Regions from separate parts of the Homo sapiens genome. Here all the other regions are linked to region 4. The links come from fine-mapping of genetic effects on gene expression. A gene starts in region 4. Each other region holds a variant in brackets. All regions are shown on one strand. Distances are between the middles of the regions. Region 1 overlaps MFSD11 (major facilitator superfamily domain containing 11). Region 2 overlaps MXRA7 (matrix remodeling associated 7). Region 3 overlaps MXRA7 (matrix remodeling associated 7). Region 4 holds the start of MXRA7 (matrix remodeling associated 7).

Evidence for each region. PIP is the estimated chance that this variant, and not a neighbour inherited with it, causes the effect.
Region 1: its variant is the best candidate, but not a certain one, in a credible set for the expression of MXRA7 in whole blood (TOPMed, PIP 0.86).
Region 2: its variant is the best candidate, but not a certain one, in a credible set for the expression of MXRA7 in prefrontal cortex (BrainSeq, PIP 0.78).
Region 3: its variant is the best candidate, but not a certain one, in a credible set for the expression of MXRA7 in atrial appendage (GTEx, PIP 0.50).

Annotation. Positions count from the first base shown.
Region 1 is chr17:76,761,043-76,765,188 of GRCh38, reverse strand. The region is part of intron 8 of MFSD11 (major facilitator superfamily domain containing 11); the gene reads right to left. Among named protein-coding and RNA genes, the nearest start is that of MFSD11, 25 kb to the right of the region's middle. The variant G/A (reference allele first, on the strand shown) is at 2,555.
Region 2 is chr17:76,677,650-76,681,887 of GRCh38, reverse strand. MXRA7 (matrix remodeling associated 7) reads left to right here. Exons shown (of 4, transcript NM_198530.4): 4 at 1,009-2,322. The coding sequence ends at 1,021. Among named protein-coding and RNA genes, the nearest start is that of MXRA7, 31 kb to the left of the region's middle. The variant G/C (reference allele first, on the strand shown) is at 1,836.
Region 3 is chr17:76,688,146-76,692,403 of GRCh38, reverse strand. It overlaps MXRA7 (matrix remodeling associated 7), which reads left to right. Exons shown (of 4, transcript NM_198530.4): 2 at 4,228-4,258. Among named protein-coding and RNA genes, the nearest start is that of MXRA7, 21 kb to the left of the region's middle. The variant T/C (reference allele first, on the strand shown) is at 1,677.
Region 4 is chr17:76,708,820-76,713,077 of GRCh38, reverse strand. MXRA7 (matrix remodeling associated 7) reads left to right here and starts at 2,113. Exons shown (of 4, transcript NM_198530.4): 1 at 2,113-2,473. The coding sequence starts at 2,132. It also overlaps a transcript of JMJD6 not described here. RefSeq lists a silencer at 1,882-2,091.

The DNA of each region.
Region 1 (4,146 bases), 52 kb before region 4:
AACCATATGTAAAAATTAACTGAAAATGAATCACAGACCTAAATGTAAGAGCTAAAACTAAAAAAACTTTTAAAAGAAAATATAGGAGTAAATTTTCAGGACCTGGGGTGAAGCAAAATCTTAGGACATCAAAAGCACACACAACAGAAGAAAAACTAAACAAATTGACTACATCAAAATTAAAAACTTTATCAAAGCCACAGTAAGACATCCCCTCACACCTGTTGGGATGGCTATTATCAAAAAGACAAAAGGTAACAAGTGTTGGTGAGGATGTGGAGGAAAGACAACCCTTGTACGCTATTGGTGAGGATGTAAATTGGTACAGCGAACATGGAAAACAATATGGAAGGTCCTCAAAATACTAAAAACATGTTATGATCCAGCAATTCTACCTCTGGGCATATATCCAAAGGAAATGAAAGCAGTATCTCAAAGTGATAGCTGCACTCCCATGTTCATTACAGCACTATTATATGTATATGTGTGTGTGTGTGTGTGTATTAATTATATAGCAAAGACATGGAAACAACTAAGTGTCCTTAAACGGATGAATAAAGAAAATGTGGTATATACAATGGTATATTATTCAGCCTTACAAAAGGAAATCCTGCCATTTAGGGCAACGTGGATGAACCTGAAGAGCATTACGCTAAGTGAAATAAGCCAGACACAGAAAGACAAATACTGCATGATCTTACTTATATGGGGAATATTAAAAAGTCAAACTCATAGAAGCAGAGAGTAGCATAGTGGTTGCCGGGGCTGGAGGGTGGGGGAAATAGGGAGACGTTGGTTAAAGAGTACAAAGTTTTCGTTAGGCAGGATGAGTGAGTGCTGAGGATCTAATGTACAACTTGGTGTTGACAGTTAATAACACTCTATTGTATACTTGAAATTTGGTTGGAAAGTAGATCTTAAATGTTCTCATTACACATGCAAAAAAAAGATAACTATGTGAGGTGATGGATATGTTAACTAGCTTGAGTGTGACCATCATTTCACAATGTATACATATATCAAAACACGTGGCCGAGTGCTAGGGCCCACGCCTGTAATCCCAGCACTTCGGGAGGCAGGCGAATTGCTTGAGGCCCAGAGTTCAAGATTAGCTGGGCCAACATGGTAAAACCCCATCTCTATTAAAAATACAAAAAAATTAGCTGGGCATGGTGGTATACCCCTGTAATCCCAGCTACTCGGGAGGCTGAGGCACCAGAATTGCCTGAACCCAGGAGGAGGAGGCTGCAGTGAGCTGAGATCATGCCACTGTACTCCAGCCTGGGTGACAGAGCAAGATTCTGCCTCAAAAAAAAAACAAAAACAAAAACATGTTGTACCTCATAAATATATACAATTTTTGTAAGTTATACCTCGATAAAGTTGGGGGAATTTTTTTTTTTTAAGTTTTGTGCTTCAAAAGATACTATCAAGAAAATGAAAAGTCAATCTATAGAACGGGAGAAAACATTTGTTTGTTTTCCTAGAGCGTTTGCTGAAACAAAATGGGAGAAAATATTTGTAAATCATATATATAGAACTTTTATCTAGAATATATAAAGAACTCTTACAACTCATTAATAAAAACAGAATCCAATTTAAAAATGGGCAAAGGATCTAACTAGGGCCGGGCACGGTGGCTCACGCCTGTAATCCCAGCACTTTGGGAGGCTGAGGCGGGTGGATCACTTGAGATCAGGAATTCAAGATCAGCCAGGCCAACATGGTGAAATCCCATCTCTACAAAAAATATAACAGTTAGCCGGGAGGGGTAGCATGCACCTGTAATCCCGCTACTAGGGAGGCTGAGACAGGAGAATCACTTGAACCTGGGAGGTGGAGGTTGCAGTGAGTCGAGATTGTGCTACTGCACTCCAGCCTGGGTGGCAGAGCAATACTCCACCTCAAAAAAAAAAACAAAAAACAAAAAAACAGAAAATAACTGCAAGCACGTGGAAACACTGACAAACTCATCCTCTGCTAGTAGAAATGTAAAGTGGTATAACAATCTGGCAGTTCCCCCACAGGCTAAGCAGTCAGATACCACATGACCCAGCAATTCCACCATTCCTAGGTGTGCATCAAAGAGATCTGAAAACACATCCACACAAAAACTTGTACACGAACTTTATGTATTACCATTGGGGGAGTTCAGTCAGGATGGTGGGGAAAATTATAAGACGCAAACCTTCTTGGAAGGCCTGGGGCGTTTGCATAAGCTCCAGTGATAAACTTAGCTGAAGGCAGCCTTGTCCCCTTAGTTAAATAAATTACAGTAGAAACAAAGGAATGTGGGGAGTTTAAAAAAAAAAAAAAGGAATGTGGGGAGTTTATCTAAATAGCTTGTTTACTCTTGTGGTCCTAAGGCTAACCTTTGATTTCCCGCCGGTGCTTAATTGCTTTCTACTCGGGAAGTCCACGATGTCAATTACCCTCTAGTGGTGTTGACTCAAGCCTTTGTCAATTAATATTTACTGAATAAATGTGAGTCTCACTAGCTGGTCAAGGCCGCTTTTTTTTTTTTTTTTTTTTGGAGACGGAGTCTCGCTCAGTC[G/A]CCCAGGCTGGAGTGCAGTGGCGCGATCTCGGCTCACTGCAAGCTCCACCTCCTCGGTTCACACCATTCTCCTGCCTCAGCCTGGGACTACAGGTGCCCGCCACTACGCCTGGCTAATTTTTTTGTATTTTTAGTAGAGACGGGGTTTCACCGTGTTAGCCAGGATGGTCTCCATCTCCAACTGTTTACAGCACTCTGCGTGGAGTCTATAAGCTGCCCGGATGCTCAGCCAAACTGGCAAAGCAGAATATCTGTGTGTCAGTGTACTTTATTCATCCATTGTTGGGTCAGGGTCTGCAGGACAGACCCCTGAAACTCATAATACATAAAATATAGGAATGACTCAAATTTTATAATATATTGTGACATGAATGAGCCTTGAAACCATTATGTTAAAAGAAACCAGGCACTAAAGACCACATGTTGTATGATTCTATTTACATAAAATGTCCAGAATAAGCATATCTATAGACAAAGTAGAGGAATGGGTGCAATAGTAGTGAAAGGGGAGAAAGTTGGGAGTGCCTTAGGGAGGTTGCATTAGGAGGCTGGAATGAGAAGTGACTCTAATGTGCACAGGGAAAATGCTCTAAAATTGAGTAAAGTGATGGTTACACGACTCTGAATATAATAAATTGTACTGACTTTGCAATGGATTCTTTAGATTGATTAAATGGGTGAATCATATGGTATATGAATTTTTTTTTTTTTTTTGAGACGGAGTCTAGCTCTGTCGCCCAGGCTGGAGTGCAGTGGCGTGATCTCGGCTCACTGCAAGCTCCGCCTCCTGGGTTCACGCCATTCTCCTGCCTCAGCCTCCCAAGTAGCTGGGATTACAGGCACCCGCCACCACGCCTGGCTAATTTTTGTATTTTTAGTAGAGATGGGGTTTCACCATGTAAGCCAGGATGGTGTTGATCTCCTGACCTCATGATCCGCCCGCCTCGGCCTCCCAAAGTGCTGGGATTACAGGCGTGAGCCACTGCGCCCGGCCAGTATATGAATTATATCTCAATTTAAAAAGGCAGAATCTAACACCTTAATGAATCTTCTTCCAGTCTTTTTCTATGTATTTTTTACAAAAACAAATTCTACTATATATTCTCCATTTTATCATTTGTTTTCACGTAATATACAGGAGAATTTTTTGAACATTCACAGAGATAATTTTTATGGCTAGGGTAATCTATTATATAGATGTACTAATGTCTAACAGTTGAATACTTATTTCCAGTATCTCACTACTATAAACATCTTAGTAGCTAGATCTTGCCACAATATTTAATTATTTCCTGAGGATAATCTTACTAGTGAAATTGGTTATTCCACTGGGGCAAAGGTTATAAACATTTTTATCCCTTTTGATACCTAATGACAAATCACTTTTTATAAAGTACTACAAGTATATATCAGCAATGTAGTCTTCCCCAAGATGGAGTCTTGCTCTTGTCACCCAGGCTGCAGCACAACAGCACGATCTCGGCTCACTGCAATCTCTGTCTCCCAGGTTCAAGCAATTCTCCCGCCTCAGCCTCCTGAGTAGTTGGGATTACAGGCACTCACCACCGTGTGCGGCTAATTTTTGTTATTTT
Region 2 (4,238 bases), 31 kb after region 4:
ACAGTGTGGCTAGGACAGTGGGCTTGCAGGCTGGTGACAGCTCCCCTGAGCAAGAGGCCTCCTCCTCCTCCCCCAGAGCTAGGGAAGCTGGCAGGGCTTGGCTGGCTTCACAGCTTGGCAGGAGAAAGAACAGGCGCGGCTGTCAGCTCCTCTCCATCACTTCTTCCCACCTTGTGGTCTCAGAGGGAAAATGAACCCAGGCTATAGACTGGGCTGGCTCTGATAGATCAGGACCCACCCCTCCATTTGAGGTCTGCAGGGCTGTCTTGACTCCTCTGGAAATGGACATGACTCTAGAGGAAGGTGCTAGTGTGGTAAAACAGGGAAGGGGAGGAGGAGGCCAAGGAACCCCAGCTGTGGGGTAGTTCTGGTTCTTCCATCTGATGTATGCAAGAAACTACAGACAATAGACCTGCCAGTGTGAATTTCCAGCTCAGGCTGGAAATGCGTGCTGACTGTGACCACCAGGAGAGGGCGTCAGAGGGACAAGATCAGACCTGCTGGGTTCTCAGTGGTCCCAGGGCTGGCAGTGTGTCTTGGTTCATAAAAGACGGGCATGCAGTTGGCTCCATCTGGAAGCGTGCATCCTAGGGTGCCAGTATCCCCCGAGGGGACAAAACTCAGCCAGCGGGAATGGGAAATTATCTAGGGTGATAGGAATATTGTCAGCACAACCACACAACCCAAGATCAGAAAGGCCCTTGGCAACTCAAATGCCCAAGTTCCTTCCTTAAGTACCCTGCAGAGGCTGAACAGGGTCTGTGGGCTGCCAGGTTCTGTGCGGGATCAAGGGGAGCTCTGCAAGCTCTGGCCGGCTTGGCGGCACAGACTGTCTTGCTGCAAGCGATGAGAAGCAAATCAGCAGTGGTTTGAGAAACCAGAGTCTAGCGCAGCTTCTGCAATTCCAAACATTCTCCTTCCTCGTCCCCATTTCCCCCTTTCCTTGCCCATGGTGCAGGATGGAATGAGTAAAATAAATTATCTTTTTCTCCCCATTTCTCTTTACAGAACTGAAGAATAACGAAGTTATCCTTAGCGTCCTCCTAAAGGCTTTTCCTTTTGGCATCTTAAAAGCTTGAGAGATAAAACGGAAACCCCAGAGAGGAGTCTGGGCAGGCTCCCAGGGTGCATGCTGCCTCCATAAATCTGCTGAGCTCTAGACCCTCAATCAGGACTTGTCCCTTGGCTAGCAGGATCCTGGGAACACCTTTGGCCCTGCCCTGTGTAGAGATGTTCATGTCTGTTCCTGTGGGTCACTTTGTTAAGCTGAAGAGTTTTAAGAGGTAGAGCTCAGACCCTGGACTGGGATTTTTCTTACCACTCAAACTTGCTATCCACACACCCTGCACACCTTAGATAAAAAGAACATTTTAAAAGCAGAGTTCACTTTCACTCCAGTCTCCCCTCTTTTGCCCTCACTGAAGCCAAACCACAGAAGACTTTGAGGAATGAGAGACAAATGAGGTAGAGCTCACCTGTGCTCACCAGCTCCGTCAGGGTGGTCAGCCGACCCCTTTCCCTGGGAACCCCACTTCTCTCTGTGGCTGGCTTGGTTGTCGGGGGTGAGATGCCATATTGATTACAGGGCAGCAAAGAACCAGTACCAGGAATTTACTTGACCATTCCCCTTATTTTTCATCTAGAGGAATCTCGGATTCAGCCCTTTCATTGCTAAGACACCTTTTCACTGAGGTTCTTACCAGCTCAGCCAAATCTCCACTCTGCTATAGCAGAAGCAATAATGTTTGCTTTAAAAAGATTTCTTGACCTATGCCTTTTCTTAGAAAGTTTGATAGATTAGTTAGAACTTCAGATCATCAGATCAGTCTCAAATG[G/C]GTTTCTTGGAATTTTATATTTGACAATATTTATACTATACCAAACTCATTTGCAGTTCTTAGGTTTGTTGGTTAAAACATTTTTTTAAAGCAGTAAGTTTATAGAAAATGTTTTCATTTAATGGAAGGCTGGGGAATGTCCAGCATCAACCCCTATGGCATGCATTCCCAGGGGCCTTCTCATCTGGGCCTGGAACCTTTGGTTCAGGGCTTAGGGGAGAACAGGCCACATGGCAACAGCCACACAGTCATTGCCTTCAACACAGAGCCACGTGTCCCCAAACAGCAATAGTCATGCCCTTGTCCAGGCTGGGATCTAATTGACACAATAGGTCGTTGACTCCCTCCTAGTAGAGCTATCTAGGTTTGTCTGGAAAGTTTCCGACCCTGGCTTATAGGCACCACACCTCATGTACTCCTCATGGCTTGGATCTCTGTATTCAGCCTTTGTTCAGTCCAATAAACTTTGAGTAGATGATCTCAATTACTGTGTGTTTTTTCAGTTTGCTTTGTTTTAAAACAAAATCCCTTTTGAACCCATTGAAGTTTGACCTTTCTTTCATTTTGATGCCTCTTACTCTGCAGCAGAGTACAAAGCCATACATCCACCCTGTTAAAAAATATGCAGTCACCATGGCTGTCAAAACCACATGACATGATCTGTGTTCACTCAGGGACATATGGATTGTGCTTCCATCCACAGAGCTCAGCACATCCTTTCTGTTCACGGGAATTCCTCTTCTTCTTCTTTTTTTTTTTTTTTTTGAGACAGGGCCTCCCTCTGTTGCCCAAGCTGGAGTGCAGTGGTGCAATCACAGCTCACTGTGGCCTGGACCTCGTGGGCTTAAGTGATCCTCCCGTCTCAGCCTCCCAGGTAGCTGGGACTACAGGTGCTCACCACCACACCTGGCTAATTGTTTTATAGAGACAGAGTCTGACTATGTTGCTCAGGCTGGTCTTGAACTCCTGGGCTCAAGTGATCTTCCCATCTTGGCCTCCTAAAGTTCTAGGATTACAGGCATGAGCCACTGCACCTGACCCTCTTTCTTCTTACAGGAGGGCACAAAGCACACATCATAGGCTGCTGCTTCACCAGACAGGGGAACCGACTGTAGACACAGCTTTCCCAGGGGACAAGGGAGGCTGGGAAGTGGGACTTCAGTATTTCAACTACTAGATGCTGCTCTAGACAGAAAATTTTGCAGGATGGAAGATGCGGGGCTGAGGAGAGGAGGGAAGGGTGAAGCAAAGGAATATGGTAGCAAAAGTATGGGAGCGAACGTGGAGACCACCCCTCCAGGCAGTGTGGGGGATGCCAGTGGCCCAGGGCTATGCTGAGGTCCTGCGGTTGCAGAGCCTGTAACGTGCTTACAGCCGACCCAGCTGCAGAGCAGGGCTGAGAGGTCCGACACTGTGATGTGGTTTACGTTCTCTGAAGGCACTGAGCCCGTGGTGTGTGGGGGGCAGGAACTGCAGAAACCAGAAGAGTGAGATGCAGCCAGGATGCAGTGCCCGGCTGGGCTGAGGAGCACAGGGCACCAGAGTGGAGCAAACAACAAACATATGGCTCCCTGGGTTCGGCAGCCGCCTCGCCCCACCTGAGGTGTTTGTGCTGCAGAAGTTGTCCTGTGCTGGTCAGATGGTGTAGCTGAGCCTCATAAAGATAACAAGACATTGCTCCCAGCACAGAACCCGCGTGGAGCAAACATTTAGGCCAGTCTTCCTCCACACCCATCCCTTGATAAAAGGGGCAGGGCCGCCACCTGCCATAGGGTATCTTGTGCAAATTAGGAAAAGGCACCCCCCTTTCTCTGGCCAGTGAAACCCCACAGGCTTCCCTCCCCGCTCCTTTGCCAAGCACCGTCTTGCACACACTTGTATGCTCCCTGATTTCCCAGCTGATAATGTTTTTTCTTTCTCCACTTTCGGCTCATTCCTCTCAACGAAGGCTGTTTCTAACCTACTTCTTCATAGCACTACCTCAAGCTGCTTCATGGAGCCTATCTTCTTCCTCATTACATCACTGTGGGACATGCAGTCAACAATCAAATGAGGCCCAAAGGGAAACTGAGGCACAGAGCACCTAAGTGATACCTGGGGTCCCCAAACCTCCCCGGCAAACCTGAGATTTCGCATCCCAGTTTTTAGAGCCCTCAAAAGTTGCGTGTGTCAGACCCAACCAGCTCCGATGTTCTAAGTGGGTTTTATTTTCATTTTCTTCTTGTTCTGAAAAGCAACCGCAGTCACACAAGAGAGAGGAGAGTCCCAACTCCGCCGGCTGCACACAGGCTCCCTCTCTCCCCAGTGGGCTAGGAGCACCTTCTTCCTCTTTGTCCTTTCTTCTCGACAGAGTTCAGAAGGAACAGCTGGCTGCCATCTTCAAGCTCATGAAAGACAACAAGG
Region 3 (4,258 bases), 21 kb after region 4:
CACATGCCCATAGTCCCAGCTACTCGGGAGGCTGAGGCAGGAGAGTCGCTTGAACCTGGGAGGTGGAGGCTGCAGTGAGGCAAGATCGTACCATTGCACTCCAACCTGGGCAACAAGAGTGAAACTGTCTCAAAAAAAAAAAAAGAAAAAATCAGACTTCCAAAGTCAAGTACAATTTTTTTTTTCTTTTGGTGACAGGGTCTTACTCTTGCCCAGGCTGGAATGCAGTGGCACCCCCATGGCTTACTACAGCCTCAACCTCTTGGGCTCAAGCGACGCACCTGCCTCGGCCTCCCAATGTGCTGTGATTACAGGTGTGAGCCACTGTGCCTGGCCCAGAATCTAAATGTGTACCAGCCTCTCTGTGCTCAGGAGGGCTTGGGCACGTCAGCTGATACTGGGTCCTTTGGGGATACGGATCTGCCCTGGCTCATGGACTCCTCGCCCTGGAGTGCAATTATTTGTTTGTCTTTCCTACTGGACCACGAGCTCCGTAAGGCAGGGACTGTGCTCATTGTTGCTGTTGTTTTTCATTTAATCTTTGTGTCCTTTGCACATAATAGGAGAACTGGCCTCCTGTCTATTCTTGATATTGGGCTTAGTTCCGGGGCCGTGCCCTGAATAGGTCAGTGACTGTTTGCCTGTCATTAAAGAGAGACATCAACCATGAGAAAAACCAACTGTTTTTCTGTCCATGCACACAACACTCCACAGAACCCTTCACTTCTGATACCAAATATGCAGCCAGCCCCACCCCTGCAACCAACACCTTCTCCAGCCACCCAGACACCAAGTGGGTGTCCTCCCGTTCAACTCTGACATTAACTGCCTGGAATCAGTGCAGACCCCACAGGTTAGGGCCCAGTCCCACAGACTGCCCCCTACTTCAGGGGCCAATCACAAGTATCAGGTCCCCTCGTTCCCCACACTTTGGTCCTACTTGCCTACAAATCAAGGGTTCCATGAACCCCTCCTCAAGTTGAGTAATTTGCTACAGCGTCTTACGGAGCTCAGGGAAGCACTTATGTTAACTGGTTTATTAGAAAGGAAGTGATAAAGGCTACAGATGAACAGCCAGATGGAGGTACCTAAGTAGAGTAAGGTCCAGTAGGGTCCTGAATGCAGGAGCTTCCGTCCCCATGGAGTTGGGGTACGCTACCCCCTGCGCACGGGAATGCATTCAGCAGCCTGGAAGCTCTCCAAACCCTATCGGGATGTTGACGGAGGCCTCATCACATAGGCGTCATCGATTCTTAACTCAATCTCCAGCTCCTCTCCAGTCTCTGGAGGAAGCTGGGGGGTGGTGGGGCTGAAAGTTCCAAGCTCCTCATTGCAGCTTGATCTCTCTGGTGATCAGCCCACCCAGGAGTTACCTCATTAGAACAAAAGACACTCCTGTCACCCGGGAAATTCCAACGGACTTAGGAGCTCTGTGCCAGGGACTGGGATCAAAACCAAATGTTAGAACAAAACATGCTGCTAGCACCCCTGTAACTTAGGAAATTCAAGGGACTTAGGAGCTCAGTGTCAGGGCTGGGCATGGTGGCATGCACCTGTGATCCCAGCTATTCCAGAGGCTGAGGCAGGAGGATCGCTTGAGCCCTGGAGGTCAAGACTGCAGTGAGCCGTGATTGCACCACTGCACTCCAGTCTGGGCAACAGAGCAAGATCCTGTC[T/C]CAAAAAACAAACAAAATAAAAACTGTGTCAAGAACTGGGGGCCGAAACCAAATATATATATATTTAGGATGTTACATTCTTTCTACTTTTTTTTTTCCAAGTGATCCTTCTGCCTCAGCCTTCTAAGTAGGTGGGATCACAGGTGCGTGCCACCATGCACAGCTAATTTTTAAATTTTCAGTAGAGGCGAGGTGTGCACTATGTTGCCAGGCTGGTCTTGAACTTCTGGGCTCAAGCAGCCCTCCCACCTCAGCCTCCCAAAGTGCTGAGATTGCAGGCATGAGCCACCACACCTGGCCTCTTACTTTTTTTTTCTTTTTTAGAATATATAAGAAAATAAATAAAGAAAAAATGGGGTCTTTGGATCTGACTGTCCAAAGACACCATTAGCATTTAAAAAATATATTTAGTCATTCATGCATATTAATGGAAAGTCCAAATTATACTGAACTCTATAAGACGGAAAGGAAAAGCTGCCCCCCAAGCTCCTTTCCCAAGAGGTAGCCACTGCTGACAGTTTCTCGTGGGCCCTTCCAAAAAACAAACCTTTTCTCTGCATTTTCGAGCACATGCGTGCATTTCCACTTTGCCATTTACAGCAAGATGACTGCGCTGCTCACGTGGGGCTGCTGCTTGCATTTTTCCCTCGATTTATCTTGATGTACTTTTCATGTCAGCACCTATCAACGCCTCCTTTTTTTTTTTTTTTCTTTTTTTAAGATGCAGTCTTGCTGTGTCACTAGGCTGGAGTGCAATGGCGCAATCTTGGCTTACTGCAACCTCCACCTCCCGGGTTCAAGCGATTCTCCTGCCTCAACCTCCTGAGTAGCTGGGATTAAAGGCACCTGCCACAACACTCGGCTAATTTTTTTTTGTATTTTTAGTAGAGACGGGGTTTTGCCATGTTGGCCAGGCTGGTCTCGAATTCCCAACCTCAGCTGATCCACCCACCTAGGCCTCCCAAAATTCTGGGATTACAGGCGTGAGCGACCGCACCCGGTCCCCAGTTCTGTCTTTTCAACTGCACGCGGTCAGAGTCATTATATAAAAATCCTGATGGACATTTCTCCAGTCTGGAGCAGATCCCTAGAAGTGGGTTTGCTGTGTCAAATGGAGCGGCTCCTCTTCCTGCCCCCGGAAGAGGCCTGCCCACTCCGACCTCAGCCATAGAGATACTTTGCTGTGCAAAATTTGGGAAACGTCAGGACACACAGGCACCACTTCGCCATAGATAGCACTAAGTCTGTGTGTACAAAGTGCCCAACAGGGAAGACGCTGTGTTGCCTGCGCAGCTCCCCCCAGGCAGCATTTTGTGTAGTCAAGGAAGTCCCTCAGGCCAGGCACAGTGGCTCACTCCTGTAATCCCAACACTCTGGGAGGCCGAGGCAGGCGGATCACCTGAGGTCAGGGGTTCGAGACCAGCCCGGCCAACATGGTGACATGCCATCTCTACTGAAAACACAAAAAAATTAGCTGGGCTTGGGTGGCGGGCGCCCGTAATCCCAGCTACTCGGGAGGCTGAGGCAGGAGAATCGCTTAAACCCAGGAGGCAGACGTTGCAGTGAGCCGAGATCGCGCCACTGCACGCCAGCCTGGGCAACAAGAGCCAAAACTCTGTCTCAGAAACACACTCAGAAAAAAACAGAAACCAAACAAACAAAAAGTCACTCAGAGGAGCTCAAGGCCCCTCTGGGTTTGCCACTTCCGACCCGCTGTGGGGCTTGTAAAAACTTTGCCTCCCGGCACAGCTCAGTGTTTTGTTAGGGAGCCTCCCGTGAGCGGCCGACGCTGGCTGGGCTCCATGGGATCAGCTGGGGCTGCTCATTCATTCATTTCCACATCTACCCACTGGGCTTCCAAGTTGAAGTTCCTGGGGCTCCCATGTCCCCTCCCCATGACCTTCAATCCCACAGAGCCCATGGGCACGGCACGTCGCTCTCATCCTCTGACATTCCTGCAAGCTGAAGTCACTTCTTCCTTCCACCAAGGCCATCCCGGGCCATTCCTCTGATCATCTGTTTATTGTGTCTCTGTGTGGGAGAGAACTGGCTGAAGAGGTGGGGCTCCAGTTTTGGGAACATGGACACTGAGAGAGTTGGGGATGGAAAACAACATAGAAGGAAGCAAAGCCAGAGGCTGCGATGGCCATGCTGCCTGGCCCTGGTCCCAGACAGACACCCCAGCCAGCTTTCCTCTTGCACCCTTTGTCTGCTGGCCGCAGCGTCGCAGTGGGAGTCCTGGGCCCACTTCTCCAAATGGCACACAGAAGCCTCAACAGGCACCCACCTGGGAAAGGCCAAGGCCGAGGGCTTGGGGTGCACAGTCAAGAACACGCCTCAGCTCAGCATTTGTGAGCCGAGTCACTTTGGCCCATCGTTTGTACACAGCCCCCACCTGCTGGTTGACCATGACCACAGGGCAGGCGCTGCCACAGGGCGTGGGCAGGCTGGACCTTCGAGGGCCTCCTCTGTCTCCCCTACCTTCTGCCCCCCCACCACTTCCCATCACCCAGTCTGTGCCAAGGGCACTGACCCTGTCCTTGTCTTGCAGGAAGAGGAGCAGGACTTGGATGGTGAGAAGG
Region 4 (4,258 bases):
GAGGAGAGCTAGCCCTGGCCAGCTGTCTCCAAAGTGACTGGATGCTACAGAAGAACTGGGACTGTCTTCTGCACACTCGTGCCTCCTGGAGTTGTCAGAACACTGAGCAGTCTCCTAGTTCTGCGTCCGTCTAGCCATGGGGTCTGCCATGAAAGCCTGTGGATCTGCTATTGGGTTGGTATTTTAAACTTTCACTTGGGTGAAACTTGTTCATCATTTTAAATAAAGCAACATGATTTGGAGTTGTGTTTTTGGCATTGTTTTGTCCTTATTTTCTTTCTTACTCATTTGAAAGTCAACAATGTACTTTGTCAGCAGAACAGGACTTTAAAAAAATGTATTTACACTTTAAAACAATGGGATGGAGCACAAAATTAAGGCCCTGGGCCAGGAGCATTGATGCACACCTGTAATCCCAGCTGCCCAAGAGGCTAAGGCAGGAGGATCACTTGAGCCCAGGATGTCGAGGCTGCAGAAAGCTATGATCATGCCTGTGAATAGCCACTGCACTCCAGCCTGGGCAACATAGTGAGACCCTGTCTCTTTAAAAAAAAAAAAAGAAAGAAAGACCCTGTCTCTTTAAAAAAAAAAAAAAAAAATTGGCTGGGCGCGGAGGCTCACGCCTGTAATCCCAACACTTTGGGAGGCTGAGGCAGGCAGATTGCCTGAGGTCAGGAGTTCAAGACCAGTCTGGCCAACACGGTGAAACCCTGTCTACTAAAAACAGAAAAAAATTAGCCGGGCATGGTGGTGGGCGCCTGTAATCCCAGCTACTCAGGAGGCTGAGGTGGGAGTTTCGCTTGAACCCGGGAGGTGGAGGTTGCAGTGAGCCGCGATTGCGCCACTGCACTCCAGCCTGGGCAACAGAATAAGACTCCATCTCAAAAGAAAAAAAATAGGCCCATACACTGGCTGAAACTTCCACAGTGGTTAAAAGCTAGTCGCCCGTAGATAAAGCCTATTTCACATTTTATAGTTTATAGGCTCTTTTCATCAACCACCACTAAAAGGAAGTGCATGGCCCGCTTAATATCGTGCAGTGCAGCAGAATTCAGCTCTCCCTGTTGCTGAGGGGTCTCGTTTGTGTATCTTCATTTAAAAAGAAGCACTCCATCTAATATCTGGTTTATATCACAGATCAGCTCAGGCACTGTAATATTCCCAAAAAAGTATTAAAGGCATCCTCAGCAAAAACTGGAACCGTGTTTTTTTTAACATTAGGCCTTATGTTTGGCGTGATACCTGACATGCCCGTCCTGTGTTTATTTAAAATAACTAAAGAGTGGGTGGGGAGTGGTAGGAAAGTATGTTTTTGGTTACAACGTGTTTATCTCAAAATCCACTGTTCAGCAACAGAGGCCTGGGAGGATCTGGAGAAACAAAAACAATAGCCTTCATTTCCTTCATTGTACCCTCCCACCCTGCATGCATTCTGGAATTGTGCAAAGAAGAAAGTCTGGTAAGAGGAATAGCGTTGACCAAGGACCTGCAGCTGAATTTCAGGTCTAGGGGCGGGGGAGCCATGTTACTGTTAACAGGGAGGCCTGTGTTGAAGGCTGCTGGCCTCAGCTCCGAAGGGAGCATTCACTGGCCGGGATCTGGAGATGTCCTCTGTGAAAGTGCATTAAGGCAACCCTGAGGATTAAAAGCAACTCCTGACATGCCTATAAAAACGGCAGTGGCTGAACGTAATCCGGCATTATGATTGCTTTACAAGCCAATCCAGGCTGCCGTTTCCATGAAGCTTCCCGGGTTTGCTTGTCTCTCTGCATTCCCACATTTCCAAAATGCTCTAAGACGAACCGCCGTACTAAGGCCAAAGATGACAACCTAAGGGCACCTCATACAGTATTTCAAATTGAACCTGAGCTAAATTGTGCCCCAAAGCGTCAAGGCTGCCCAGGCCGGGCAGGGGTTGGCCCTCCTGTGCCTCCCAGGTGGTCAGGGCTCTGCCCCCTCAACACCCCCGCCCGCAGCCTGTGCGTCACCCTCCCGGGGCCGGAGGGGGCGGGGGCGGGGCGCGGCGATGGGGGCTCCGCCCCGAGGCGGGGCGCGGCGACCGGGCGCGGCGACGGGGCGCGGCGGGCTCCCTCGGGGTCCCAGCTGGCCCGCACTCGGCGGCCGCGGCGCGATGGAGGCGCCGGCCGAGCTACTGGCCGCGCTGCCTGCGCTGGCCACCGCGCTGGCCCTTCTGCTCGCCTGGCTACTGGTGCGGCGTGGGGCGGCCGCGAGCCCGGAGCCTGCCCGCGCGCCCCCGGAACCCGCGCCCCCGGCCGAGGCCACCGGGGCCCCGGCGCCGTCCCGCCCCTGCGCCCCCGAGCCGGCGGCCTCGCCCGCGGGGCCGGAGGAGCCTGGAGAGCCCGCGGGGCTGGGGGAGCTCGGGGAGCCTGCGGGACCGGGGGAGCCCGAAGGGCCAGGGGATCCCGCGGCGGCGCCAGCGGAGGCGGAGGAGCAGGCGGTGGAGGCGAGGCAGGTACGCACCGGGGCCCTCGCGGCCCCCTCCCCACCCCCGGGGCTCCGGCTGCCGCTGCCGTTCCCCGCCGAGCCAGGGAGCGGGGCCGCGGCCTCCAGCCCAGGCTGCCCCCAGGAAGCGCAGAACCCGCGGCCCGCAGGAAATGCAGGTCCCGCCATGCTAAGCCGCAGCCCCGCAAACTCGCCGCCCTCCCCCAGAAAGTGTGGCGAGGGGCGAGCCCGAAGGAGTTTGTTTGGAGGTGTTTTGCTCTCCCCTCCCCTCGGCCTCTCCCAGCCCAGGGCGTGCTCCGCAGCTGCTGGCTCCCAGGCCTCGGGACCAGGGCTTGGAATTTTGCTCCTCACCCACTTCTGACCCCTCCCGCCCACCGGTTCCCAAATCCACGTGCCTGTGGCTTATTTCCAGGCCTGCCATGAGAGTTATCTTGATGTTTAAAAAGTAGGACTTTCGGGGGGCGAGGGAGGAAAGCTGGCTTTTCTTTTTCAGCCAATTTGAAGTCCAGATTTCAGAGTCAGTGCTGTGGCGTTTTGTGAAGCCCGTGGGCTGGGACTGAAAGAAAAGGCACCCGATCCCAGCAGTCCTTTTTATTGTCGTTTTCAAGCTACACATCTAACACCCTCCTACCCCCACTCCCCCGGGTTGTAGGTAAGCTGGGCCTGGATGGAGTGAAGATGCAGGATAAAGCCCTCCTGGAGCACCAGTGAGCACCCCAAAGCGGCCCTCCCTGCCTCTGCCCCAGGCCTCCCGCCATGCTGTCCATCAGCTCGGCCTTGGCCACCTTGTCCTGCCTGTGGATATCTGAGAGGAGTCGGATTTCCCTCATCCACTCATCCCAGCCCCTACACTGTGTGCCCATGTTCCCTGGAGTTCACCACGCTTGGCCGGTCCAGGCCACCGCCAGGGTCTCCGAGTCGGATTGTAATCCCTTGTTCTTACCCCTGAGCTCCTTTTCTTGGAAGGGAGGAGAGCCGGGATGCGCATTGTCAGCGTGCCTGCGTGTCTGCGTGCCCACTCTGTCCTGTGCTGGACACAATGGTTTACCCTGGAGAGAAGCCCTTCGGGGGAGGAGGAGGCAGCCAGGCTGTGCTCAGAGGCATTTCTCTTTGCTGAGTAAGTGCGCCAGACCCCCTCTGAGCAGGCGCTTTGCTTGACAAGTGGGTGACTAATTGTGTCATTAGAGAGGATTCTAACCAGCCACATTTAATGGGGTGGAGCAGGGGCAGGCCCTGCCGTTCTTGCTTGGGGTGGGCTTCCAGACCTCACGCGGTGATGGTGGAGGGGGCGCGGTTTGGACATGTGCTGATCTGTTGTGTTTGCTCCCATATTTGGGATTCCTGCCTCCATCGAGGTCTCGCGGGAGCAGGAGAGGCCTTTAGACAGTTCTGGAGCCGTCATGCACACTCAGTCAGTCCTGGCCTTACAGGGCTGGCCCTTTATCACCCACACCAGGCTCTGGACTGAAGTGCAAAATGTCCTTTAGCGGCGCCCTGTCTTAGCTCAATCCTGTGGGGCACAGCGCTTAAAGAACTTTCTACAAGGCTTTCGGCTCTCAGCACATGGTACCTACAGGAATAGGTTCAGTGGTGTTTAAATAGGGCCACTCGCATAATTTGCCACTGTCTGGGTGAATGCACGTCCTCTGAAGCTGAATGGGTGCTCTGAAGGACAAGGCAGTATGGGGGTTCGCGTGCCAGGCAGCCCCCATGACATAGGTGCCAGTGAGGATGACTTGAGGCTTGTGTCTGTCCTCCCGCTAAGGCACCCTCCAGAGAGAACCCACCCCACAGG